Linked DNA regions of Homo sapiens. The protein of the gene in region 2 interacts with the protein of the main gene of each other region in a biochemical or structural test. Each region holds a gene or a part of one and is shown on either strand. Other genes may lie near its edges. The genes, in order: SPATA13, KHDRBS1, DOCK3, ARHGEF4, NPHP1, DHX9 and TSPOAP1.

Region 1 (3,500 bases), on a different chromosome or scaffold from region 2:
CACACACACAAAGCACTTCCTGCGTGATGGCCAGGACACTCTGGCATTTTACAAGGATCAATTCATGGAATCCTCACCTATGACAGTGGTTCCCAAACTTGACTACGCTTGGGAAGCTTTCAAAAATTTCAACACATAGGTCATACCCCAAACCAATCATAACATTTGAAGGTAAGAGTAGGCACCAATGTATTTAAAGGCACCCTGGTAATTCAAACATGCAGCAAAGGTTTTGAAACTCTGAGAGATGGGAACTGCTACGGTCTGAATGTATGTGTCCCTCCAAAATTTTGATGTTGAAATTTAAACCCCAAGGTGATGATGTGAAGAAGTGGGTCCTTTTGGAACTGATTAAATCATGAGGGCTCCCCTCTCGTGAAGGAGATTAATGCCCTCATAAAAGAGGATTACCATTCTCTGCAAATACTATGAGGCAGACATGGAGAGTAGCTGTTCAGAGCCTCCAGGAAGCATATGCTCTAAAACAGTGGCTTTCAAATATTTCTGTGGTTGAAAAACATGTAGAAGGCATGTTAAAAAACAGATTGCTGGGCCCCACTCACAGAACTAATTTATAGGTCTGGTGGGAGCCCTAGAATTTACTTTCCTAACAAACCCCCAAGTGTTGCTGATGCTAGAACCATGCCCTAGGCACACAGACTCAGTCATGACTGATGTGCTTGGGGCTATAGTGATACAGATGTTCAAGGGTCCCTCAAGTCACCAAGCTGGAGCCCATCTCCTCACCTCTGTTTACGCCGTCCCCCAGGGCTAGAAGGTTTTCCTTTGTCAGCTCCTTCCCTAATTGCTCACTCCTCTGTTAGGATTCAGCCCACACTGGACTCAGCTCCTCCTCCAGGAAGCCTTCCTGGATCTTTGAACTCTCATCTTCTCCCCTAACTGACTGCCACACTCACTACTTTTCACTGCTTTGCTTTTACATATGGGCCTCTCCCTCTAGACAAGAATATGAGTCTCTTCATGAAAATGGGACTGTCTCTGATCAATCTCTCCATCTTCAGCATCTAGTACACAAAAGATACACAGTAAGTATTACATATACATTTATGCTTACAAACCAGCATGAAGTATCATCGGTATTACACTTGTGATAGCAGAATCTGCAAATCCACATAAATCCCTAAATAGGCCATTCCTGATGAATGAGAAAGACTTTTATACGTTACAGAAGAGCACTCCACCCCCCAGGAAGGGTGGAAGTGGAGCACATTTCTGAACCAGAGGCTATTTTTCTTTTAGCTATAGAGTCACAACACACAACCCGGATGTGTTTAAAAGTACATGTGCAAGTTGTTTAGGACTCAGGGCACATTTACCAATCTCTACATCACCCATGGTGACTAAGAGCTAGGGCCTGACCTAAGAATCCTGTGTAATGAGACTGAATTGTCGCATTAACACTCAAGTACAATGGACTGTTCCTATCACACAGAGCAACATTTTCTGCAAAAGATGTGATCAACGTTCTGATCAGCAATACCACAACACATCTCATTGCCAGCCTCCTGCCCCCATTGGAATAAGACAATAAAAGCCTGCCCTCCCCGTGCATCTGTCCCAGACAGTGAGTAAAGATGTCCCCTTTCCTGCTGCTAAAGTTGGAGTTGGGGTGGGTGGGGGGTGCAACCGGGAAGGGCTGAGAGAGGAGAAGAGGGCAGGAGACTGGGTGGCCCAGGAACCCAGGAAGGCAGCTTGCCTCCCTCCATTGAAACTCTCCAGTCTGGCCATTTCGGACCTGTGCTCTACTTCTCTCTAAGGAGAGCTTGCCAGTGTTAAGAAACAAAGCCTGCTCTGGTATGAATGGGGGTGGAGGGGAAAGGCTGGCCCTTCCCCTCTCCTGGATTGGACAGGTAGAGTCCTCTTGGAGGGTGCAGATGGATGCTGGTGGGTCTTCAGGGCAGACCTGGCATGCTGGGGTGGGAGACAGTCTGAGGCAGGCACAGAATCCCTCAAGTGACAATGTCTGCGCTCTCGTGATTCCACAAAGACTAGGGCAGTCCCGCTTCAGGGAAATGGGTGGAAGTGATTGCTCACCAAGAAGTCAGGTCCTTTAAGGTCCTGGTTCACTGAAGCAACAGCCCCATTTCCGAGATGCTGGAACATGATGACCACAGGACAGCCATTACCTGTGTCCACCGAAGCTGACATCCTGACCACAGCACATGGCCACAACCACATACATATACAGGAAACACAGACGCCATTCTCCTTGCATTCTGCGGTGTTGCCACAGCTCCCCAGGGTTCTTGCAGGCACAGAGGGCATCGTCCACAACCCCGAAGTTAGCGCGACGGCTGGACTGGGAACTCCTCTGAGCCCTCAGGCTCTTGTCCCCTGGTCCCCTGGTCTCTCCTCTCCAGCTTCACCTTCAGCTCAGCACACAGGAGCTATCGATGTTGTGAAAGGTTCTGTGGTGCCGTTTCTGCCTCAGGGAGTTACAGGTTAGAGGGAAGACAGACACACCGAGGGATGCAGGTGGATCTCCTAAGCCAGGCAGCCCGGGGTCCAGTCTCAGTCTTGCCACTTACTATGGGGCTCTGGCCACGACAGCTTCCCTGAACCTCCATCTCATTTAGGGAGCAATGAAACTTGACTTGCTCCTCAGTTATAACCATCCTCACCTAAACCACAGAACACAGAGGATACCTCACGCAAATGCTTCCTCCCTTCTCCCCAGGATGGTACCTGATCACCCATCTCATCCTAGGAGGGAGTGATGAAGCCATCACATAGGATGCCTGCCTCAGGGCATCAGGGTTTCATTCTGTCAAGACAGGCTGGTATGGAGGAGGTGAGCATCACAATTCAACAATACCCTGCAGGTTCCCTGGGGAGCCAAAAGAGGCATTAAACATGGAGGGAGCAGAGGCAGGAGCAAGGGGGCTCAGTGGGAGTCCAGAGAAGGATGTGGGTACAGCAGAGGCCAACAGAAAAACAGCAACCTACTCTATGCTCCCCCTTTACTGCTCTTTCATTTGTGATGCAAAGATGAGGAAAATCAGGTAAGCACTTTGTACCAATGCATTTCTCTCCACAAATGTAAAATACAATTAAACATTCCAGGTACTGATTTTCAAATTGCCATGTATTATATAGTTTCCCTCAAGAAAACCATGTACATTTGGTGTTCATTCCTGGTGTTTTAGAAATAACAATGATAGTTCTTTCTAAAACATTTGAATTTATACCACTGTGATGTTATGATCCCATTTATGCTATTACATGTCTCATAGGCAAACATTTCTTAAATGTTTAGTTTTCAGACAAAAAAGAAAGGAAAGCACTGATGAGTTCCCCTTCTAAGTGAAACCTTCCAATGCCTCTTAGCTCAAGGGAAAGGAAGGGGAAAGAAACTTTGTTGCTTCCAGCAGCAAACAGAGAGGTCAACCTACCAAGCTATAGGGCCAGGCATTGAGCCCTGAACCAGAGAAGCCTTAGAGCCAACTTTGTCCTGCTGCTTTCCCTTGAATATGCCATTT
Region 2 (3,255 bases):
GGTACGTGGTACACCAGTAAGGGGAGCCATCACCAGAGGTGCCACTGTGACTCGAGGCGTGCCACCCCCACCTACTGTGAGGGGTGCTCCAGCACCAAGAGCACGGACAGCGGGCATCCAGAGGATACCTTTGCCTCCACCTCCTGCACCAGAAACATATGAAGAATATGTAAGAAATTTGAACAATGTGCCATTTCCCAGTACCTAGAAGGCTGCTAAAGGAAGTTGAATGACAGGGCCTCGGTCCTTTATGTAGGTGTCATGGACTGCCTGTAAGATTTGCAATCTGCCCTCTTCTCTTGCAGTGAATGTTGAACTATTAGAAGATTTTTCCATTTTAGGCAGGGTTTTACTATACGCCTGTAGATTAAACAAGAAATAAAATGTACTTTAATGTAGTATTTTATAATGAATTTCTTACTACTAGTACTGATAATACTAAAGCTCGATTTTGTACTTTACTTCCTGCCCACACTTCTTCTGTGGCATATCATATTTGTTTGGGTTTTCTTTGTTTAGTAACCCTTTCTCTTTTGACTATTCTACAGTAGGCATTAACATTTTGGAGGGAAATGTCATGTCCTTTTAATTCAGAAGCCTACTTACTCCCATGGGATGTAATTACCTTTCCTACTCTCTATGATTTTGATCTTTTATTTCATTTTTTTGTTGTTGTTGTTCTAGGGATATGATGATACATACGCAGAACAAAGTTACGAAGGCTACGAAGGCTATTACAGCCAGAGTCAAGGGTGAGTCAGGCAGTATAAGCACTGTTTTTTGTCCTGAGGATGGATGGAGGGAGTTGGAGGAACAGAGAGATTTAGACAGTACAACCCTAAGGAGCAGAATGGTTCGCCTTTTGAGGGTATCTCCTCTGCAACCCCCACAGTCCTGACTGGTCTTGAACTCTTGAGCTCAAGCAGTCCTCCCACTTTAGCTCTCTCTAGTAGCTGGGGTTACAGGTGCGTGCCACCATGCAATGCTTTCCTCTGCGTTTGACATCTGTGAAGCACACACTTGGATTTGTAAATCTGGATAACTGTGAACCTTAAATTATAATTTAGAACCTGAGAGTAACAAATGAAAAATTTCCAAGCTGTGACTACATGGAAACAAGGAGAAATGCCTTTATGTTATTTTGATTTATTATTTTAAAATATCAAAACCACATTAAAGCTCCATAAAATTTTACAAGAAACTTGAATTCCATTACCATAACTTAGGTTCTTTTCTGCATTTCTCTTTAAGACCATTTCCTTGTGTGTCCATATATATAGCTTACCTGTGAATTGATTGAAAAAGAGTTCCAGAATTCTACAGCAGTGATAAAACAGTTCTTTTTTCCTTCTGGTGAGCCCTATGAATACATGTATATATATGCTATATTAAAAGGGTCAATTTAGGATTGTGCTTTTTCACTTTATATTCTGTGGTATCCATTTTTCTTTGCAATAGTTGTCAATTATTTTATAAGTACATAGTCTATACATATTTTGGAAATACTTTACGGTTTAGGGATGGGGCAGAATGAGTATTTTCCTGTATTAATACACTTAGTAAAATGACTGACTTATGGAAGTATTTGAGAGAAAGTTGAAACATAGTTACTCTGTAGCTTCCTAACACTCTGCCTTTGGCTTTCAGGGACTCAGAATATTATGACTATGGACATGGGGAGGTTCAAGATTCTTATGAAGCTTATGGTATGTCTTTATCTCTGTGGTGGGGCAGAATGTACAAGTAAGTGCCTGGGAGAATGCTGGTGACTAAAGTATTGAGAGTCAGACAAACACACCTACGGATAAACCTTTAGAAGGCCAAGATTTTGCTAGATGTGACAGTAAGAGTTCTGCTCTTGCTTAAATTTTGCGGTACATGGTAGAAAGAGGGACTGCTAAAGTGAGGTGGGGTATCGTTACTCTTGGAAGGGTAGTGTTTGTCTTAAACAAGGGCTCAAGACCAGCTTGGCCCTGGTTGGAGCAGCAGACTTATAAGCTAATGTTATTTTTTTTCTACTTTAGGCAGGGAAATAGCTAGACCTGGGTTGTATTTCTGGGCCTTTGCTGCCGATATCTAGGCCACTTTGGTAGATAACAAGAACTTAATCGTACACAACTGTACTCATCTACCCCATTTCATTAAAAAAAAAATTTAGATCTCATTGAAAAGAATGTCATTGTAAAGGAAATGTCAGCTGAAAGGGACCTAGATGGCAAGCAGCTAGCCAGACCAGGTTGCGGGGCAAGAATAGTGCCTATTAGGGCCGGGCGTGGTGGCTCATGCCTGTAATCCCAACACTTTGCGAGGCCGAGGCAGGCGGATCACCTGTGGTCAGGAGTTCGAGACCAGCCTGGCCAAGATGGTGAAACCCTGTCTCTACTAAAAATACAAAAAAATTAGCCAGGTGTGGTGGTGGGCGCCTTTAATCTCAGCTACTTGGGAGGCTGAGGCATGAGAATCACTTGAACCTGGGAGGCGGAGGTTGCAACGAGCTGAGACCGTGCCATTGCACTCCAGCCTGGGCAACAAAAGTCCGTCTCAAAAAAAAAAAATAGTGCCTATTAGAATCAGATTAGAGGCTGTAGGGGCTAGAGCCAATAATTCAGGACAGTACTGGCACCAAGCTCCTTGTTGGCTTGAAGACATCAACACAGTCCTTGATCCCAAGAGAGCTATGGAGGCTGCAACAGCAGCAGGACAAGGCTGCCTTCCCTGAGGTTTGGTTAAAAACACATCGCTCAAGTGTGTCCTCAAGAGCCAGTTATGGCCCTGTGTTAATAGGCCTCACTGGGAATACTATGTGGCAGTGGATGCAGCGAGAGCTACCTTTTCAGTATAAGGTATTTTCAGCATACCTGAGGGACTTCCAGAGAGTCCTTGGCAGGGGCTCAGCGATTGACAGTTCACGCTAAGATACTGGTTGACAGTCTCCCCTTATCCCTAGCTGAAAAAGAGGAGCCCCTTAGGGCCTCCCAGAGACAGACAAGCTGAGCCCAACTCAGCACAGTATGAAGTAGCCAATCAGCTGCTTGCCCAAGGAAACTGTTTTTACCAGTTTTAGCGAAATAGCACTGGACAGTTGCCAATCACTAACACTGTGTGTGATTGCACCCAAGTATTTCCCTCCATCAGTGAGGCAGTACAGTGGGGCCTCTGTATGTGTTTGACTAAATTGCATTTCTGTTTTGCTGGAGAAAAGACCAAACTGAAAGAGGCAGGCTTCTCTTTGTGCTCCTGATACGACGTTGCCAC
Region 3 (3,500 bases), on a different chromosome or scaffold from region 2:
TAATGCTTACATGTTGGGAATAATTTCAGATCATTCTTAAAGAATAAAGACACAAAAATTTTAAAAAATTCAAAATACAAACTATTAAAAATTAAAATTTAGCACCAATGTAAAAATATGCTATGAAGGTTAAAGTACTTTCAACCTCAATGACCATTCTTTTGAGACTGCCCTGCTTCAGAATGCATCTAATACTACACAGAAATAGGTGCCATGTTTACAATTTAGCTTAATGTTTCTAAATCATATTCTAATACTGCATGATAAAACGAACTAGAAATCTGAAGTCTACTGAATAGACTTAAGATGATTAAAAACTTAAACATAAGACCCAAAACTATAAACCTACTAAAAGAAAACATAGGGAAAATGCTTCAGGACATTGGTCTAGGCAAAGATTTTATGACTAAGACCTCAAAAGCACAGGCCACAAAAACAAAAATAGACAAATGGGGCTACATTAAACTAAAAGCTTCTGCACAGCAAAGGAAAAAGAGTAAAGAGACAATCTACAGAATGGGAGAAAATATTTGCAAACTATTTATCTGATAAGGGACTAATATACAGAATATACAAGGAACTCAGCAGCAAAACCAAATAATCCCATTAAAAAGTAGGCAACAGGCTGGGCACAGTGGCTCATACCTGTAAACCCGCCACTCCCCAGGAGGGAGGGTCTCTTGAGGCCAGGAGCTCAAGACCAGCCTGAGTAAAATAGCAAGACCCAGTCTCTATAAAAAAAAAAAATTAAAAATTCGCTGGGCATGGTGGCATGGACCTGTTGTCCTAGCTACTGGAGAGGATGGCTTGAGCCCAGGAGTTCAAGGTTACCATGAGCTACGATCATGCCATAGCACACAAGCCTGGGTGACATAGCAAGACCTCGTCTTAAAAAAAAAAAAAAAAAAAAAAAAGCAGGGCACGGTGGCTCATGCCTGTAATCCCAGCACTTTGAGAGGTCAAGACGGGCAGATCACTTGAGGTCAGGAGCTCGAGACCGGCCTGGCCAATATGGTGAAACCCCGTCTCTACTAAAAATAGAAAAGAATTAGCCAGGTGTGGCGGCGCACACCTGTAATCCCAGCTACTCAGAAGGCTGAGACAGAAGAATCGCTTGAACCCAGGAAGCGAAGGTTGCAGTGAGCCGAGATCACCCCATTGCACTCCAACCTGGGCATCACGGCAAGACTCTGTCTAAAAAAAAAAAAAAAGAAAGAAAAAGAAAAAAATAGTCCAATACAGAAATAAAATTCCTTAAATATAACTATCCAGTTTAAATTGAAAACTGCAGAGTATGTCTTATCTTTCAAGCCACAGTCATATACTACTGACAATTCCTTTCAGAGGACACGGTGTAATAATACAATCTGTGGCTTAGAATCTCAAAGTCCTAGGTTCAAATCTCAACTCAGCACTTACTATCTAAAGTATCTTAGATCAGTTACTTAATTTCTCTCAGCTAAAGCTTCTTTCTCATCTGTTTAAAAAAGAGGGGAGAGGTGGTGATATAGTGTAAAGCTCAAGTAGAATCATGAATAAGGAAGTTCCCCATAAACACTAAACAAGACATCAAGCACATCCTCACTTTTCAGAACAAAATAAAGTCATAGGTCTATGAAATCTTTCCTACCCCTAGTGGATGATGTCTTTACCTCTAAAGGGGTATTGGGGCCCTTCCAGAGGTTGCAAAGGTTGGGCTTCCCTCACTGAATAAATAACTAAAGAGCACACTGTCTTCAGACTATTTTGGTGAGTTCTAGTCCATTTACCAACAGATTTACTCAAATTTTGTGAACACTAATTCTTCCAGATCTGGTTTCAAGGATCTATTTCCTCCCCACCTTCAGATTCTTTTCCTGCACCACAGGATCTTTACAAGTTTCTTTTAAGGACTCAGGATTTGTTTGTTTGTTTGTTTGTTTGTTTTTAAGTGCTTTTCTTCCCTATCTGGAGAAACCTAACCAAAAGGAAGTTAGGTAAAAATAATGCATAAAATACGCATTACTTTTTAAATAGGAAAAAATAAATATAACATTACAAAACTAAAATGTAAGGTCTTCAGATTGGTAATGAGAAAAATTTTTCATGTTCTACTAAGAGGGATTAATAAAAAATAAGCAATAAATGCCCTAAATTACTCAAAAATTTGCCTTAGCTGGGCACAGTGGCTCACAGGTATAATCCCAGTGACTTGGGAGGCTGAGGTGGGAGGATAGCTTGAAGCCAGCAGTTTGAGACAAGCCTGGGCAACATAGCAAGACCATGTCACTAAAAAAAATTTTTTTTAATTAAAATTTAAAAATTAGCCAGGCAAGGCTGGGCGCAGTGGTTCATGCCTGTAATCCCAGCACTTCGGGAGGCCGAGGCGAGCGGATCACAAGGTCAGGAGATTGAGGCCCTCCTGGCTAACATGGTGAAACCTCATCTCTACTAAAAATACAAAAACAAAATTAGCCGGGCATGGTGGCGGGCACCTGTAGTCCCAGCTACTCGGGAGGCTGAGGCAGGAGAATGGCATGAACCTGGGAGGCAGAGCTTGCAGTGAGCCGAGATCACGCCACTGCACTCCAGCCTGGACGACAGAGCAAGACTCCGTCTCAAAAAAAGAAAAAAAAAAATTAGGCAGGCAAGGTAGTAAACACCTGTAGTCCCAGCTACTTGGGAGACTGCTGCAGGGGGATCGCTTGAGCCCAGGAGTTCAAGGCTGCAGTAAGCTATGATCATGCCGCTGCACTCCAGCCTGGATGACAAGAGCAGGACCCCACCTCTCAAAAAAAAAAAATTGCCTAATGACAGCAGCAGAATAAACAAGATGACCTTCTGAAGCAGCTTCCACTTCTAAGACGTCAAACTAATACCTATGTACTCAAACCTTTACCACTTTTCTATTCAAGGAGTGTAATTACAAACATTTTTGTTTTAAAAACTGTTGGTGCTTGCTGCTCCTGCTGTTGCTCCTGTTAGAGGGTGAGAAAAGCATTTTCTTGGTTTTTGTATTCTATATTTGGTACTCTGGGTACAGTCAGTATAGGGAAAGACAGGTGTTTCACAAAAATAGCTGGATTTTTCTCACCTAATACACTTTAGAGCAGGAAGCTTCTTGGAAAGGTAGAATAAAGAATGGAAGGATGCAGGACTTTCCAAGCATTCATGGCAACAGAAAGGAAAGCAGAGATTCTCTAAGAGGGAAAGGGACATAAGAAGTCAAAACACGGGCGAACGGGTACAGTAAAGAACAGTACCTTACAGTACCACAAAAAGAAAGCAAGACAGTCAAGTATTTCACAAAATACTGCCCACTGCCAAGAAGAAAATTAAGAAAAATATACAATCGTTGAAGGACAAAAAAAAAAAAATTAACAACCTTTGGGATCCAGTTTCTTTATCTGTGTAATAATGATAACATTAAGACTACTCTGGGAATCGACATGGGGTTACCTAAGTGAGAGTCCCAGGCACACTGACAGGCCTATCACTGACCCTCAGAAAGGATAATGTCC
Region 4 (4,261 bases), on a different chromosome or scaffold from region 2:
TCTGGATTTTTGAGACAACATATTTTCCTTTTGGGTGTGCTGCTCCTCTGACTCATTTGCTGGGTGACCCCCAAGGCGGCGCACCTGTGTGGGCCCCTGGCAGGTGCAGGCTCTCCGACTGGTCTGCCTGCACGGGGAGGGACTCTGCCACACGACTGTCATGCCCCATGGATCCCACGGTGCCCAACGTGCCCAAGCAGATCTGTGTGCTGTACAGAGTCTGTACCAAGTGCCACCAGAAGGCACACCTGGGGCCTTGGGGTCCTCCTCCTGGGCTTGGTGGAGACTAGCTGCATCTTGGCTAACAGAGTCTGACTGGGAGACCCAGACAATCTGAGGTTCCCAGAATGAAGTGGCCTTTTCTGGCCCAGTCCAGCACCCATCATCAGGGGTACCTCATAGGACCAATCCCTGGGGACACCAGGAGGCACCAGGCGGTGACTGAAGCACGTAGCTCCTCTGCCCACCCCACAACCTGTGTCCTCACGGGGTATTCCTTACGACCAGTGTCTGAGAGGAACAAGTATGAACTACGTTGTCGGTGGCTCGGCAAGACACACTCACACAGCCAGAAGTGGACTGCTGTGGCAGTCAGAGCCCCTCCCATGTGGACAGCAGAAAGGAGACCCTCTGAGGGGCACAGGTGATGCTTCCTGTGGTGTGCATGGGGAGGCCTCAGGTGTCTCAGGACCTACAGGGACCTGAGGCAGAAAGTATGGAAAGGCCTCTCTGAATAGATGGGGAACTGGAGGACCGTGTGTGTCAGGAATACTTTCACAAAGGCCAAATCCCAGGAGCCTCCCAGGCAGCAGCAGGCAAGGTGGCTGCCCAGAGATGTCCAGTGGTCTCTCCTCCAGCCACACTCCACCTGCTCCTGGAGCTTCTGGGGCCAGCTGGGTGACTCAGATTCTGCCCAGGCATCTTGGATTCTGTCCGGCCATCTTCCCCTCACCTGGGCAACTCCTTGCCACCCTTGCTGTGGGTGCAGCAGAACCAAGGTCCAGGGCTCACCACTTCATAAACACACTCACGTTTCTTTCCTTCCTTCCCTCCCTCCTTCCTTCCTTCCTTTCCTTCCTTCCTTCCTTCTTTTCTTTTTCTTTTTTTTGAGACGGAGTCTCGCTCTATCACCCATGCTGGAGTGCAGTGGTGCTATCTTGGCTCACTGCAACCTCTGTCTCCCGGGTTCAAGCAATTCTCCTGCCTCAGACTCCCAAGTAGCTGGGATTACAGGCGCCCACTACCGCGCCCGGCTGATTTTTGTATTTTTAGTAGAGACGGGGTTTTGACATGTTGGCCAGGCTGGTCTCGAACTCGTGACCTCAGGCGATCCGCCCCCCCCACTCGGCCTCCCAAAGTGCTGAGATTACAGGCATGAGCCACCGCGCCGGGCCACACTCACATTTTCTAATAAGACCTTCACACTAACCCTGAAAGGTGTGGAGGGCATGGAAACATCACCCACATTTTTCAAAACAAAGACCCAGGTGGTTATGTGATTGTCCCAAGATTGTACACCTCCTCAATGACAGAGTCGGCATTTGAAGGGGGTCTGAGCTCTTCCAAGCCATCTCCTACACTCACCAGCACAGGTTCCTGAAAGGCTGCCTTCCCGGCTGTCCGGCCCTCTCCACTCTTGATGCCAGCGATCACTTCGTTATCGCTGGGGGTGGGAGCTGATGCCAGGCCAGCGGATAGGCTGAGGGCAGGGCTCCTGCAGGTCTGCCCTGGGTCACCTGGCTTCCTGCCCCTTTCACTAGAGCTCTCAGGGCCACAGAACTCCGACCTCAACCTCCCGTCTTCAACTCCGGGAGAAGATGGCTGCACAGCCAAGTAGGGCGCCCTCCCGCCCTCCCGCCCCGACAGCCCCACACAGGTCTGCCTCCCCCTGGACCTGCAGCTGACAGCTGGTGGCTCTTCCCCGCCTCTCCTTTCATGCAGTTGCTCCCGGAGTAGGAGCCCATCGGAGCTCAGCACCACCCAGCGTCGCAACCGCCCTCCCGCTGGCTCACCTGGGGAGGTCGGGCTTGGCAACCTGTGGCCGGCCACCCCTGACAGTGCCCCGGAGCCCCCGGCCCATCTTGGGGTTCCTGTGGGGGCAGCGAGGTGGAGGCGTCCCAACTGAGTGGGTCCCGGATGGTGAGCGGGCCCGGAAATCGGGCCAGAGAGGGGGCACCCCGAGCAGGAGCCCAACAGCCCCGACCCCAGTTCCAGCCCCTTGCCGCTGCTGCGCCCTCGCGTACTCTCAGCCTGGGGAATAACAACAGCAACCACTTCTCCCGTACCCACCGGGCCGGCACCAGCCCTCCTTCCCAAAACAGCTGGTACTGCGCCAAGCGGCAGAGGCTCCGAGTGCCCTGCGCGCCCAGGCCGGTCCAGGCAGCGGCTCCGAGTGCCCCGCGCGCCCAGGACGGTCCAGGTGCGGGGAGGCCGGCTCAGGCGCTCGCCCTTGCCCTCTCAGGGGCTCGCCCCGGGCCGCCGTCCCTACCGCCCCCAACGGAGCCCCGTCCTTCCCCGCGCTCGAGACGGCCCCACTTTGCAGGACGCCGCCTCCGGTCTGCACGTCGGAAAGTTGGGAGCGGCGGGGAGCCACGAGGGTGTCCCCACCCACCGGGTGCCCAGGGGACGGCCCGGGGCGCAGCAGCCAGCGCGGGCTGTGCTCCTCCCCACCCGCGCAGGGCGCCGGGAGCCCGACCGCAAGTCCCGGACGCCGGCTCTCACCTTGAAGAAGCTCCGGAGGAAGTGCACGACGCTGAGCATGGTGGCCGCCGGGACGCCCGGAGCCCGGCCGCAGCACTACGAGCCGCGCCGCCGAGCCGGCTCCACCGACGCCACCCCGCGCCCCGCCCTAGGGTCCGCCCCCGCGCCCTCGCCCGGACGCTCCGCCCCCGCAAACCTGGCCACTGGAGGCACGTGAGGTCCAGGCTCCTGCCCTGCCCGCCCCTGGGCTTTGGTCACCCGCGGGACTGGGCACGCACAGGCACACAGCAGAGCCGTCCACAGACCCGGCCCAGGGGCCGCCGGGATCATCCCGCCCAGTCGAGCTCTTGGGCCCCCTTGAAGCCTAGGAGTGTTTTCTCAGAGAGAAAGCAGCACGCTTCTTGCGCATTTGCACATCTCCAACGCAGCGCTTCGGCCTGTCCTCCGCACTGGAGACTCAGGTGCCTCCGCCCTCCTGAGAGCAGGGGCGGCCTCTCTGCTGAGAGTTCTGATTGTCAAGCTCCCAGAACTTTCAGAGTTCAGTCCGCCCAGCGTTCTTGTTTACCAGTTGAGGAAACGGAGGCCCAGGGAGGCTGTGCAGCGCGCCGGCACTCACACACCTGGTGGGGACAAATGTGGACTAGGATATCTGGGACCGAAGTCTTGGCCTCCAGCTCCCTCTTGCCTCCCACTTACCTTTCCAGGTATGTCCTGCAGATAGGATGTAAGTGAATGGTCACACCCGTAACCATTAAGGAGCGCAGCTTTCTGCTAAGGGGCAAAGGGAAGTCCTCGCTGCTTTCTTTGCAGGGGTTTAAGGAGACAGGGCCTGCCAGGAAACACTCTAACCAGCCCTAGGACCGCACTATTTTAAATCAGAAGAAAAAAACTGAGTATAATAAAATAATAATGAATCTAGCCTGGAGTATATTCATCTTTATATGAATGCAGTTGTAAACTCTAATTTTAACTATTTTATTTTATGCAGGAAGAGGCCCACGAAAGCTAAGACCCCAAGGCCCATGTGCACCATACTGCAGCCCTGCTCTGTCCACCATTTCTGAGATCGGCGCCCCACAGAGGGAGAGCATCTGCCCAGACTGGCTTTTTGCACCCCTGCTCAAGCCTGCACCCTCGTCCAAGTCCTAGCCCCACTGAACGCTATGCCTGGTCAGCAGTGCGTGTCAGGGGTGCCTGGCAGAGTGTGCATTTTCCGTACACCCAACCTGTCTCTGCCTCTCCCCAGGCCCTCACAGCAACCAGGCCAGGCGAGAAGCTTGGGAGATAGATACTCAGAGGAGGCACTGTGGGGCCATCTGAAGATCCTGCGTCCCCTGTCACAGCCTTTATGTCACTCAGGGTCCATGACTGTGCTAGAAGCATGTCCCTGAGGCCCATGGTGGTGGGAGGAGGGTGTGGGATTCGGATCTGGGCACCTGGCTGTGCTGCACACCAGTTGTGTAATCATGATCATCTGCTCTAAACACGTATCTTTAACATTCGAGAGGAATGACCGCCTGGTGGGGTTGCCATGGAGAGTACGTGAGAAATTAAACCTCAC
Region 5 (3,500 bases), on a different chromosome or scaffold from region 2:
AATCCTCTTGGCCCTGGCCTTTATTAGGCTCTCTCATGCAGGACCTCTCTAGTGAAACAGAATTTGGATCCTTCTTTGCTGCCTTCTTTAAATCTTCAAGGTCCTGGGTTATACCTCCCCCATGGCACTTGTGATGTTACCTGTGTATCTGCCTTGCATGCATGCAGCTCTTCTACTTATTGACCCTGATGTATTAGGCTAAACCATATGAAACTGCCACTTAGGCCAAAAATGGCTGAAAATTGGAGATTTCATACGATTTAACATAACACTCAACAGTTATTTCAGACAGCAAACAGCACACATGGAATTAAAGATGATGTGCATGCCCTGATTCTCCCCTGCAAATTCAATTGATTTATCTTACAGACCATTTTGGATTTTTGCTCTTAGGACACAATCAGTGGCCATCCTAAGTCAAGGAAAAAATGGGCAAAGATTGCAATAGTGTACATAGCAGGCACTCCACCTGCTCCCTGGGTCAGGGAAGGCAGCCCTTGGGAATTTATGCTAAGATGGGAAAGATGAGGACTGAGTTACCTAGACAATGGATAGGGATTGGGAGACATCATCCTAGTAACAAAAAAAAAGGCCTAGACAGAACTCATTAACACAGAGTGTATAACTGCTTCCATAAGCCAGCAGGTTTCCATTGCAATGCATGCTACCCACCCTGAGAGCATCCATCACATCAGGCTGCTCCAAGAGCATGGGGAAGGTGGCCAGCATGGGATGGCTAATTAAATCTGAAATGCAAAACAACAGAAAGAATTTTATGCAAACTTCACTCAATGGATTTTATTGCAATAGACACAAAAATATTCAGATGAAAATTATTGTGCCAAATGATTTGTTGATAACACATTCTACACACTTTGACTTCTAGGAGAGCTCAAAGCTGTCCCTTCAACCTTCATTTGCCCCTATACCCATATCCTGGTGAGTTCCTGTACCAAATTAATGGAGCTTTTAGAGTAAGGGCAAGGAGGCTCTGAACAGAATAAGACTAGAAAATTTTGTTCTGTGTTTTTCTTCAACTTCTCTTTCTTCCTTATGGCTGTGGCATGGTAAAAGGAATCTTCCCCTTAGAGGTAGCCCTGCTCTTGGGAGACTGAGCAGAAACTAGGAAGCATTGGGGGGAAAGGAGACAGAGGACCTGCTGCTCAGGTCTGATTCCAGGCCACCAGCGCTCAGGGAAGGACCCAAACTTGTGTCTGGAGCCAGCAGACAGTGGTAGGTGAAACTGGAAGAATTAGGAATTGAGGATTCTGGCCATATGACCAAACACAGTGAGGGAGAATATTGACATTTCACAATAGATAACAGCACATGAAAAATCTGTGCAAAGAAGCACATCAGGAAAGACATGTCTTAGTCTGTTTGCGCTGCTGTAGTGGAATACCTGAGACTGGGTAACATAAACAAAATAAAATTATTTCTCCAAGTTCTGGAGGCTGGGAAATCCAAGATCAAGGTAATGGCATTTGGTGTCTGGTAAGGGCCTTCTTACAACATCCTCCAGAGGGGAGGAACACTGTGCCATCACGTGGCTGAAGGCAAAAGGGTGAGACGAATTCCCTTGTCAAGCCCTTCTGTAAGGGTCTCTAATCCCATTCATAAGGCAACAGCCCTCATGGCCTAATCGCCACTCAAAGGCCCCACTTTTCAATACCATTACATTGGTAACATGAATTTTAGATGGGACACACTGAAACCATAGCAGACACTTTTGAAATGGCAAGGGCAAGGTATTCTATAATCTGGTGTCCTCAGTAGAGAAAAATTCATTCTTTAGATATTATTAGGATATTTTATTCTAATGATTAAATTCAAATGAAGTCAACAATTCTGAGTAAACTTCTTACCTATTGGGAAAACTAACAAGCCTTATCCTCTTTAAGAGGTCACATCATTCATGAAGTTTCTCAAGAGTCATGAAAATGAATTCAAAGGCAATGGTGATTAAAAGGCTTACCCGTCCTCCCCCTTAGAGTTATAATGATTCCTTGAGAACTTTCTGCGCTTCTCTGCCTTTGAGTTCCACTTCTACCTATCTATCCAGGTGATAAGTCCCTGGGAGAGGACTCCTGCCTATGAATGTTATTTGTCCACAAGTGCTAAGCCTCTCACTCACTCTGCTCCATCCATACTGGCCTGCCTCAATTTCAAGCCCTCCAACACATGCATGTCTTCTTTCCTTGGGTCTTCAGACATGCTGGCCCCTCTACCCAGAAAGAATCCTTCCCCACACACTTCCCTCATAGGTCTAATTCCTCTCTCACATCTTTTGTTAAATATTACTCACTCAAAGAAGCCTTTCCTTACCCTACACATTAATCAAGTCTTCCCAGTGCATGTTCTCGTTGTGTATTTTCCTTCACAGCACTTATTTCAAAAGGGTGGAGAGGATTATTCATGAAATTATGTGTTTGAGGCCTGGGACGCCTATGCCTGTCTCATTCATCACTGGGCCTAGCATAATATCTGGCACATACCAGGTACTCAGTACATATCTGGTTACTGATTTATTGAACTGAAAGAAGAGCCAATACAATTAAACTGCTTTTCTTTTTGAAGGCAATTACTATAACACATGCATTTATCTTTGCAGGTTCAATCATGTATGGTGACTCATTGATTTTTAAACTTATTTTTTAACATTTTACTTGGTAAAAATTTCAAACGTACAAAAAAGTTGCAAGAATAAAGACAGTACATAGGACACCCAAATACTCCATATCTGGATTCACCAATTTAAACTAATCCATTTGATACTTATACTTCATGCACTAAGAACCAGCTATTTTGGTTGATTTTGGTTTCTCTTCAAAATGATTATGTGCATACCAAACACATGGGAAAAAACAGATTACTCAGAGACATTAAGGGAAAATATGACTATATCTGACTCTTGGGATCTCAAAACTCTAGAATTTGAAATGTGAAAATACATATGTTTGAAAGAACTGAATATGTGTCGAGTTCACAAAGCTCAATGCTTTGGATCTGAAGATGTCCCATAAGTAATGTATTAACATCAATGCTGTTCTAAATATTTTATTCCAAAAGTCACAACCAGAAACAGAAGATACAAGATGGTATAGGTTACCTTTACTCAGAGTATGAAGCATTACTGCACATAAGGAAGTGGCAAAGCCCACTTACCAGTACTTTGCAAGCTCATCCTGTCTTTCAGGAGCACATCTCCAAGAATTTGTCGATAAAATATCAACAAGTGAATAGAACACATATTTCCAATTAATGTTTCTGGCAGTAGACTATTAAAGAAGAAAAAAATGTATTCATTAGACAATCCCCTACAATCCAACTTATAATGTTTTGATGTATATTACTTTAATAAACAGTCCCAAATTTTGCTTCATTACTGGAACACATTTTTAACTATTTAAAGAAAAATTTCTACTACAAGTAGGCCACATTAAATTTCAGATAACTTTTTATATTTGTTTACACTTTCGAGTCTCAACCCTGTGTTGCCA
Region 6 (3,500 bases), about 150 Mb from region 2:
GAGGTGAGGAGTTCGAGACCAGCCTAGCCAACATGGTGAAACCCCATCTCTACTAAAAATACAAAAATTAGCCAGGTGTGGTGGGGTGTGCCTGTAATCCCACCTACTTGGGACGCTGAGGCAGGAGAATTGCTTGAACCAAGGAGGCGGAGGGTGCAGTGAGCCGAGACTGAGCCACTGTACTCCAGCCTGGGCAACTAAGCGAGACTTTGTCTCAAGAAAAAAACAAACAAAAAAACCAAACTTCCATCTCTATAAAAACTTACTCATTTCCATTGGCTTAGTGATGAAAATGTTTTTTTCAAAAAAGAATGTGTATATTTATATCTCTAATAGAACTACTTCTTTTCACTACACTTCTGAAGAATGTATCTTTTGATGTTGTCCAAAAACTAAATTCTCATTGTCCCTGAAAGTCGCACACGCATTCTTTTTAACATTTTAATTTTTTATTTGGAAAACACTAAAACAAACAAAAAAACCAACAACAAAAGGAGTCACTGCCTTAAATCTCTCCACTTTTATTAAATTACATTAAGAAGTGAAATTCTCTCACAGGCCCTCAACTCATAGCAACTAACTTCAGGGGTAACTAGGATTAGCAGTTTGGTACATATCTTTTGATATGCCCTCCTTAAAAGGGCAAAATGTACTGCTCATTGACTTTTTACCCATACCTAGAACATTCTGAAGCTCTGAGCACTACTTGTCTAAATAATTCAGACTTACTGCTTGCAAATCATGATCCTGTTCCAACTGGTACATCAATTCATTCTTGAGGTCCATGCTTATTTGCTCTGGAGTAGCCTGTAAAACAAAAAGCCAACATAGTCAAACAAAAGCACATAATTCAGCTTCAAAATAAATCCATTTTTTACCTAGACATACTAATCAAATATAGTCTCAAGAGTAAAACACAAGACTCTGATCTCAAAAACAATATTGCACTCACAAAAGCCAGAGGCCCCTCATCAATGTTGCTACTAGTCCAAGGATTCCAGTTGGATTGTGGAGGTGACCAAGGAACCACACCCACTTGGTTTTGTCGCTGAGATGGTTCGAACTGAGCCAATTTGCCAATGTTGAGTGCAACTGGCACAGAAGGATCTTCAGGCTATTAAAAAATAAGAAAAACAAACAAAAAATATGATTTGCTTGTCTACGGAGAGTTCTACGTAAATGTGAACTAAACAGCTTTATGCTTACCGGGGGCAAAATCTCAAGATTTAGCTCTTGAATGATGTTTTGCAGCTGATGCTCTAAATCTTGAGAGAGGTTTACTTTGTAAGGCTCCACCTATGGAAAAAGGATCACACATTAACAACACTACTCAAATCTACTATAATGGGGCTAAGACTATACAGTCAACACTAGGTCTACAATATTCCTAAACCAATAGTCAGTTCCCTTTTGTGAGAGAATTACTTCAATGATTATTTACTCACTGCCTATTATGAACATCATGCCAGACACAGAGATGATTAGCAGGGCCATTTTCATTTCCTGAGGTAAGATTCTTAAAATTAAACTTCTTCAGCCAAACACTAAACAAGAGCTAAATTGAATCTCACACTATCTCACAAGTCTATTAAATCTAAAGACTCACTGTCTCTCCTTCCTTCTTCTTTGTAAGTCCGGAGTAAGCTTCAACCACTCCAAGATGGTACAGTTGTCTGACAAGTGACAGGGCACAGGACTGTGCTGCCAATTTCTTATTTGATCCATGTTCTCGTGCAAAAATCCCTATAATGTAAGGTCAGGATTATCAGACAGAAAGAAATCATCTGAGTAAAGAAACATCTTATCACAAGAAACTATGGGCTTACGTACACAAGAAGCCCTAAAATACAGGGTATGCCATGGCTTCTAGTTCCTTTTTATTCTATTAATATCTGCTAAACAAAAGAAATTGCCAAACAGCTTATCAACTAAATAACCAACAGTTTTGATTACTGGCTGATACTAGGACTCATACAAATCAATATTATGAAAGCAAATAACCTATTTCAACAAAGTTGTCACTGTTAATATCAGACATTAAAATGGGGAAGAAAACATAGTTTGAAAAGACAAAGAGTAAAAAATAAACCAGTAAAAGTAATTGGGTCCAGAGTGGTTACCTAGACCAGGATTTGGGAAACTTTTTCTATAAACGGTCAATTAATAAATATTTTAGGCTTTGCAGGCCATATAGTATCTTGTCACAACTACTCAACTCTGCCTTTAATGTGTGAAAGCAGTCACTGACAACAGAGTTTGATAAACCATAGGACTGGGAATGGCTTTACGTTTTTCAAGAGTTGTAAAAATAAAATGAGAATAACAATGTGTGACCTGTAAAGTCTAAAATGTGAGTGTAGCTATGTTACAATAAAACAGTTCTTATAAAAACAGGCAGTACGCTGGATCTGGCCAGAGGGCTATAGTTTGCTGACCTTAGCATTAAACTAAAGCTAAGTTACTCATATCCTTATAGAAAATATTAACAGAAAGTTTCCTCTCCTCCTGTATCATTCATCCTTAGGAGAGATGAATATAAAGCAAAGGGGTACAAAGGTATCTTTCTGCCTAACTAGCCAAATTAACCTCGATAAGGTAAGTGAGCTGACAGAAGTTAGCCTGCCTTTATCCTCTCTCCCTTAGTATTATCCATCCACTCAAAATAACTCATTGTATATATAAAAATGAAAAAATGTTTAAGACCAGGCACAGTGGCTCACGCCTGTAATCCCAGCACTTTGGGAGGCTGAGCCAGGCAGATCACTAGGTCAGGAGATAGAGACCATCTGCTAACATGGTGAAACCCCGTCTCCACTAAAAACAAAAAATAATCAGCCGGGCTTGGTGGCAGCACCTGTAGTCCCAGCTACTGGGGAGGCTGAGGCAGGAGAATGGCGTGAACCTGGGAGGCGGAGCTTGCAGTGAGCCGAGATCACACCACTGCACTCCAGCCTGGGCGACAGAGCAAGACTCCGTCTCAAAAAACAAAAAAGGTTTAAAATTAATTGACACTGGCAGACTCCTAATCATCCCACTGTGTCTTACCTTTGAAAGATTACACTAACATGGTCTGTTTTCACATGCAAACTGGGAGACTTTGCCTCTAATTTATATAATTACTAATATTCTAAAATATACCCTAGATGCTATCTTACATTATGTGCTCTTTCAAATAATACAGCTTCTGTATACGTGACTCAAGACTTAAAATGTGAAGATTCCTTCTCTATACAGAGACTTGGAATATTGGGGAAACAGTAACACTTACTTCTGCCCAGCTGCTTGATATAAATGGTCATTTCTGCAATAAAGCTCCTGTAACAACATATACAAGCAAGGTTAGAAATTTCACTGTTAGAAACCAGCAAATCCAGGTCTCCCAAGTCAGGCAGGCTTTCCAACTGCTTAGGCAAATCACAGAAAAAAAAAATTACCAACATTTATTTCTGCCCAACCCTAGAACAAATGAAGTATATAAACTTCAAATAATATACAACATG
Region 7 (3,500 bases), on a different chromosome or scaffold from region 2:
GTCAGCCACCAGGTGTTGGCAGCTGGCGAGATGGCCTGAGGGTCAGGGTCACAGCTATCATCCCTCTGCAGAGAGGGGCACATACTGGGGGGCAGCTGCTTGGTGGGGCTCCCCTCTGGTGGTCAATTAGCGGCTGCACGCTGGACACAGTGCTTACCTGCATGACCACCCCAGCTGCACCCCTGCCGCAACACTGCCCTGGCCCTACCACCCCACCAGTAGGGTAGACTGCCCTGCCAAGCTGGGAGCCCAGCTCCTCACTGACCTGACTCTCAGCCTGGGGTGTCCTGGGTTCCCTGTCCAGGCCGCCTGCCTCAGGCCCAGGGCCCTCCAGGAAGTTGGATGGAACCAGGCCCCTTTGTCCATTTAATTCCCCCTGGAGAGAAGAGGCCGGTGAGACTGAGATCAGGAAAGAGGCTCTGGCCCTGCCCCTCGACTCTGATGCCCCTGGGGAACAGCTGGGGCCAAAACCACTGTCCAGGGAGGTGACCCGTTCCATTCCTCCGGACTTCCTGAGGGTTCCTTGCCTATCCCCCTGTCCGAAGTCTGGGGGGCTGGGATATGGTACACCCTCCCCAACAATGTTCTCACATAGTAGAAACCGTCATCGTCCATGCCCCCAAACACAGTAATGACATCCCCTGCCCGGAAGGGCAGCTCTGCCTGTGGAAAACAAGAGGAGGGCATCAGGCCCAGGAAGGCTCTGCCACCGCCCTTTGCTGGGCTCTATCTGAGGGTCCTCACCTCCACGTCCATATTGGGGGAACTCTCCTGGGGGTTGTAGTCAAATGCAGCCACCATGGAGTGGGGAGCTTTCAGGTCAGCAGAGGGGACCAGCTTAGGGGGGCCTGCAGGGGGAGTAGGAGAAGACTCTGGACTCTCTGGAGAGCCCTACACCCCATCCTGTCTTCTGCCCCGGACCCCTGCTGACCCCCTGTCACCACCTCCCCACTAGCTGTAGCCAATGGGGCGAGGCCAGAGGGGCCACCCACCCTATCTCCTTCCCCAGCCTCCCGGGCCCAGGGATATTCCTTCACCTGGACAGGGCTGGGCAGGGCCTTCCGACTCAGCTGTGGAAAGAATGTGCCTGTGAGCCCCCTCCCACCCTGCCCACCCAGGCTGCAGGTGCTGCAGCGCAGGCCAGACACTCGCCCACACACAAGGAGGCAGGCAAGGAAGGCTGCCGAGGGCGCATCTCCCCAACCCTTTTGTGTGGCAGTGAACTAACACCCAGAAAGGGTAAATGGCACGCTCTGGGATTCACGGATTTTATAGTCAGGTGCCTGTGGGAACAGAGAGCTCCACAAACCATCCCTCATCCCCACCGGAACAAAGCCCCCCATGGGGGGAGGCAGGGGATGTGGGTGGTCTGCCGATTCCCTTTACCTGCTCAAAAACCCAGAGGTGCCTCCCCAGACAGCCAAGCAGCGCCACCCACCAGCACACACATCCTCCCAGCACCTGAGAGAAAACAGACAGCCAAGCAGCGCCACCCCACCGCACACACATCCTCCCAGCACCTGAGAGAGAATGGGGTCTTACCCACCTTTCTTGGAGCGGCGGGGCTTGGGAGGAGGCCCAGTTGTGTGGGCTGTGGAGTACACAAACGGACCATTCCCTGATCCAGAAAAGCAGAGAGAAAGCGAGGCAGGGGAGGTGGGAGAGACAGGACTGGGACTCTGGAGTTTCCTCTCAGGGCCGTGCTAGGTTACTGAGCTTGTTTCGTAAGGGCATTCATCTCCCATCCCTGACAAGAGCCCCACCCAACCTCCAGGACCCAAAATTCCTGGCTGCATGGCTGTATTCCCCTCTGCAACAGACGCCCACTCCACGCGGCCAGCCCACGTACAGTCTGACCACTACGCAGCAGGGTTCAAGGCAGGCTCCAAGGCTCTGCTAGAGTCTGGGTAAGTGGGAGCACCCCAGACACAACAATTGCTCAGGGTCAGGTGGAGTTGGAAGGGGGCTGGTGGGAGGTGGGTGAGGGACAGCAGCAGGTCATACCTGAGCCCTCAAGGAGAATATCTGGGGACAAATAACCCCGCTGGAGCAGTTGCTGTCTCCCAGCAGGGCTGTCCACAGCCACCTCAGCCACCATGTTGCAGGGAATGTAGCCTGTCCGGCCCCCACCTTCGCCCTGGTAGAAGCCATCGGCATCCTTGTCCCCAAACACCTGGAGGCAAAACCAGTGGTCTCAGCCAGTTCTGCTCACTCCCTATGCCCCTAGGCCCCGAACCCCAGCAACACCCCACTTGGAAATGCAGAAGAATGTTCTCCCTTTTGTATGCCATGAAATGGGAAAAGGGGGAAAACAGCAAAGAACAGGATCAGAGGGATAGGAGAAGACAGCCCTTTCTGTATTATCCCCATTCACTGTCTACATGGCCATGCCCTTTGCCCACCCCAGAATGGATCTCCTTAGTCTCAGAGCAATAGCAAAATGCCTTTAATCAATACTTGGAGGAGTAATAAAAATAGTAATGTCAGCAGCAGATAGTTAGATTGTGCTGCCTATGTCTCAGGCAGTTTAAGCACTTTATGTACATTGGATCATTTAATCCACAAAACACCCTGTGAGGTAGACACTAATATTATCCCCATTTTACCAAAAAGAAAACTGAGGCCCAGGGGGCCTAGGTAATCTACTCAAGGTTACACAGCTAGAAGCAGCAGAGTCAGGTCCAAACCCATGTCATCTGCTCTAGAAGCCATGTTCTCCACCATGATTCTGTGCTACCTCCAGTGGAGGAAAGGAGGGAGGAGGGAAGACCCAGCTGGTGTTTGGAATTCTGAGCCCTGATGGCGAATCAGTCACCTTCAGGATCTGACCCTCTCGGAAGGGAAGCTCTTCTTCTCCAGCATCAGGATTGGGCGACATTGACACGGGGTCATAGTCAAACAGAGCCACAAAGATCCTGACGGGTAGGTGCTGGTAAGCCAGTGTTTCTGAGGGGCTCCTCGCAGGGACTGTGGAGACAGTGGAGAGGGCGGTGACGCAGCGAGCTCTGGCCGAGCAGCTCTAGCTCCAGCCCCATCAGGTGCTCACCTAGCTCTGCAGTGCTTGGCCTGAGGACTCGGACACCTCTCTTCTGGGGGCCCCTCCGCCCAGAGCCGTCCTGCCCTCTGGCCTCTCCGGTCTCTGTTGCCTGCAAAAAGAGGGCAACAGATGGCAAAAGTAACACACCATCCCTCTGGTGGGCTCGTGCTCCCCCAGCTCTGCCCCATCAGCGTAAGCAGCACAGCAGCGCAGGAGCACAGCATTCCTCTCCCGGAGCCTCGGCCCAGCCTGCTGGAGACCTCAGACACCCCCACAGTGGGAGGGAGGGCAGGAGGGGAGGCCCCAGCCCCAGCCTGCGAGTAGATGAATGGAGTAGAGGGGACTGGAGTTGGCTGAGGAGCCCGCGAGAGGAGGGCCTCCCGTCAGCATCAGGGCAGGTAACCCTGGACATGGCATCACAGTCAGCGTCCTGAAGCCATTACTAGCTATGCAGAGGAAAGGG

Evidence for each region.
Region 1: the proteins of KHDRBS1 (region 2) and SPATA13 interact in a test that uses a peptide from one of them, tested with the Homo sapiens proteins (one study listed by BioGRID).
Region 3: the proteins of KHDRBS1 (region 2) and DOCK3 interact in a test that uses a peptide from one of them, tested with the Homo sapiens proteins (one study listed by BioGRID).
Region 4: the proteins of KHDRBS1 (region 2) and ARHGEF4 interact in a test that uses a peptide from one of them, tested with the Homo sapiens proteins (one study listed by BioGRID).
Region 5: the proteins of KHDRBS1 (region 2) and NPHP1 interact in a test that uses a peptide from one of them, tested with the Homo sapiens proteins (one study listed by BioGRID).
Region 6: the proteins of KHDRBS1 (region 2) and DHX9 form a complex in vitro, tested with the Homo sapiens proteins (one study listed by BioGRID).
Region 7: the proteins of KHDRBS1 (region 2) and TSPOAP1 interact in a test that uses a peptide from one of them, tested with the Homo sapiens proteins (one study listed by BioGRID).

Annotation. Positions count from the first base shown.
Region 1 is NC_000013.11:24,163,720-24,167,219, reverse strand, and holds part of SPATA13 (spermatogenesis-associated protein 13), read right to left. Parts: intron 1-3,500. UniProt on the Homo sapiens protein: Acts as a guanine nucleotide exchange factor (GEF) for RHOA, RAC1 and CDC42 GTPases. Regulates cell migration and adhesion assembly and disassembly through a RAC1, PI3K, RHOA and AKT1-dependent mechanism.
Region 2 is NC_000001.11:32,037,868-32,041,122, forward strand, and holds part of KHDRBS1 (KH domain-containing, RNA-binding, signal transduction-associated protein 1), read left to right. Parts: coding exon 1-169; exon of another isoform or gene 170-252; intron 253-684; coding exon 685-752; intron 753-1,647; coding exon 1,648-1,706; intron 1,707-3,255. UniProt on the Homo sapiens protein: Recruited and tyrosine phosphorylated by several receptor systems, for example the T-cell, leptin and insulin receptors. Once phosphorylated, functions as an adapter protein in signal transduction cascades by binding to SH2 and SH3 domain-containing proteins.
Region 3 is NC_000003.12:50,677,927-50,681,426, reverse strand, and holds part of DOCK3 (dedicator of cytokinesis protein 3), read right to left. Parts: intron 1-3,500. UniProt on the Homo sapiens protein: Potential guanine nucleotide exchange factor (GEF). GEF proteins activate some small GTPases by exchanging bound GDP for free GTP.
Region 4 is NC_000002.12:130,835,453-130,839,713, reverse strand, and holds the start of ARHGEF4 (rho guanine nucleotide exchange factor 4), read right to left. Parts: upstream 2,801-4,261; 5' UTR 2,761-2,800; coding exon 2,722-2,760; exon of another isoform or gene 2,720-2,721; intron 1-2,719. UniProt on the Homo sapiens protein: Acts as a guanine nucleotide exchange factor (GEF) for RHOA, RAC1 and CDC42 GTPases. Binding of APC may activate RAC1 GEF activity. The APC-ARHGEF4 complex seems to be involved in cell migration as well as in E-cadherin-mediated cell-cell adhesion.
Region 5 is NC_000002.12:110,128,514-110,132,013, forward strand, and holds part of NPHP1 (nephrocystin-1), read right to left. Parts: intron 3,279-3,500; coding exon 3,166-3,278; intron 747-3,165; coding exon 673-746; intron 1-672. UniProt on the Homo sapiens protein: Together with BCAR1 it may play a role in the control of epithelial cell polarity. Involved in the organization of apical junctions in kidney cells together with NPHP4 and RPGRIP1L/NPHP8. Does not seem to be strictly required for ciliogenesis.
Region 6 is NC_000001.11:182,856,347-182,859,846, reverse strand, and holds part of DHX9 (ATP-dependent RNA helicase A), read right to left. Parts: intron 3,316-3,500; coding exon 3,269-3,315; intron 1,744-3,268; coding exon 1,607-1,743; intron 1,297-1,606; coding exon 1,207-1,296; intron 1,115-1,206; coding exon 953-1,114; intron 808-952; coding exon 730-807; intron 1-729. UniProt on the Homo sapiens protein: Multifunctional ATP-dependent nucleic acid helicase that unwinds DNA and RNA in a 3' to 5' direction and that plays important roles in many processes, such as DNA replication, transcriptional activation, post-transcriptional RNA regulation, mRNA translation and RNA-mediated gene silencing.
Region 7 is NC_000017.11:58,304,796-58,308,295, forward strand, and holds part of TSPOAP1 (peripheral-type benzodiazepine receptor-associated protein 1), read right to left. Parts: intron 3,147-3,500; coding exon 3,047-3,146; intron 2,968-3,046; coding exon 2,816-2,967; intron 2,174-2,815; coding exon 2,005-2,173; intron 1,619-2,004; coding exon 1,547-1,618; intron 1,071-1,546; coding exon 1,038-1,070; intron 849-1,037; coding exon 745-848; intron 664-744; coding exon 592-663; intron 377-591; coding exon 266-376; intron 1-265. UniProt on the Homo sapiens protein: Required for synaptic transmission regulation. It probably controls the recruitement of voltage-gated calcium channels to the presynaptic membrane, and modulates neurotransmitter release.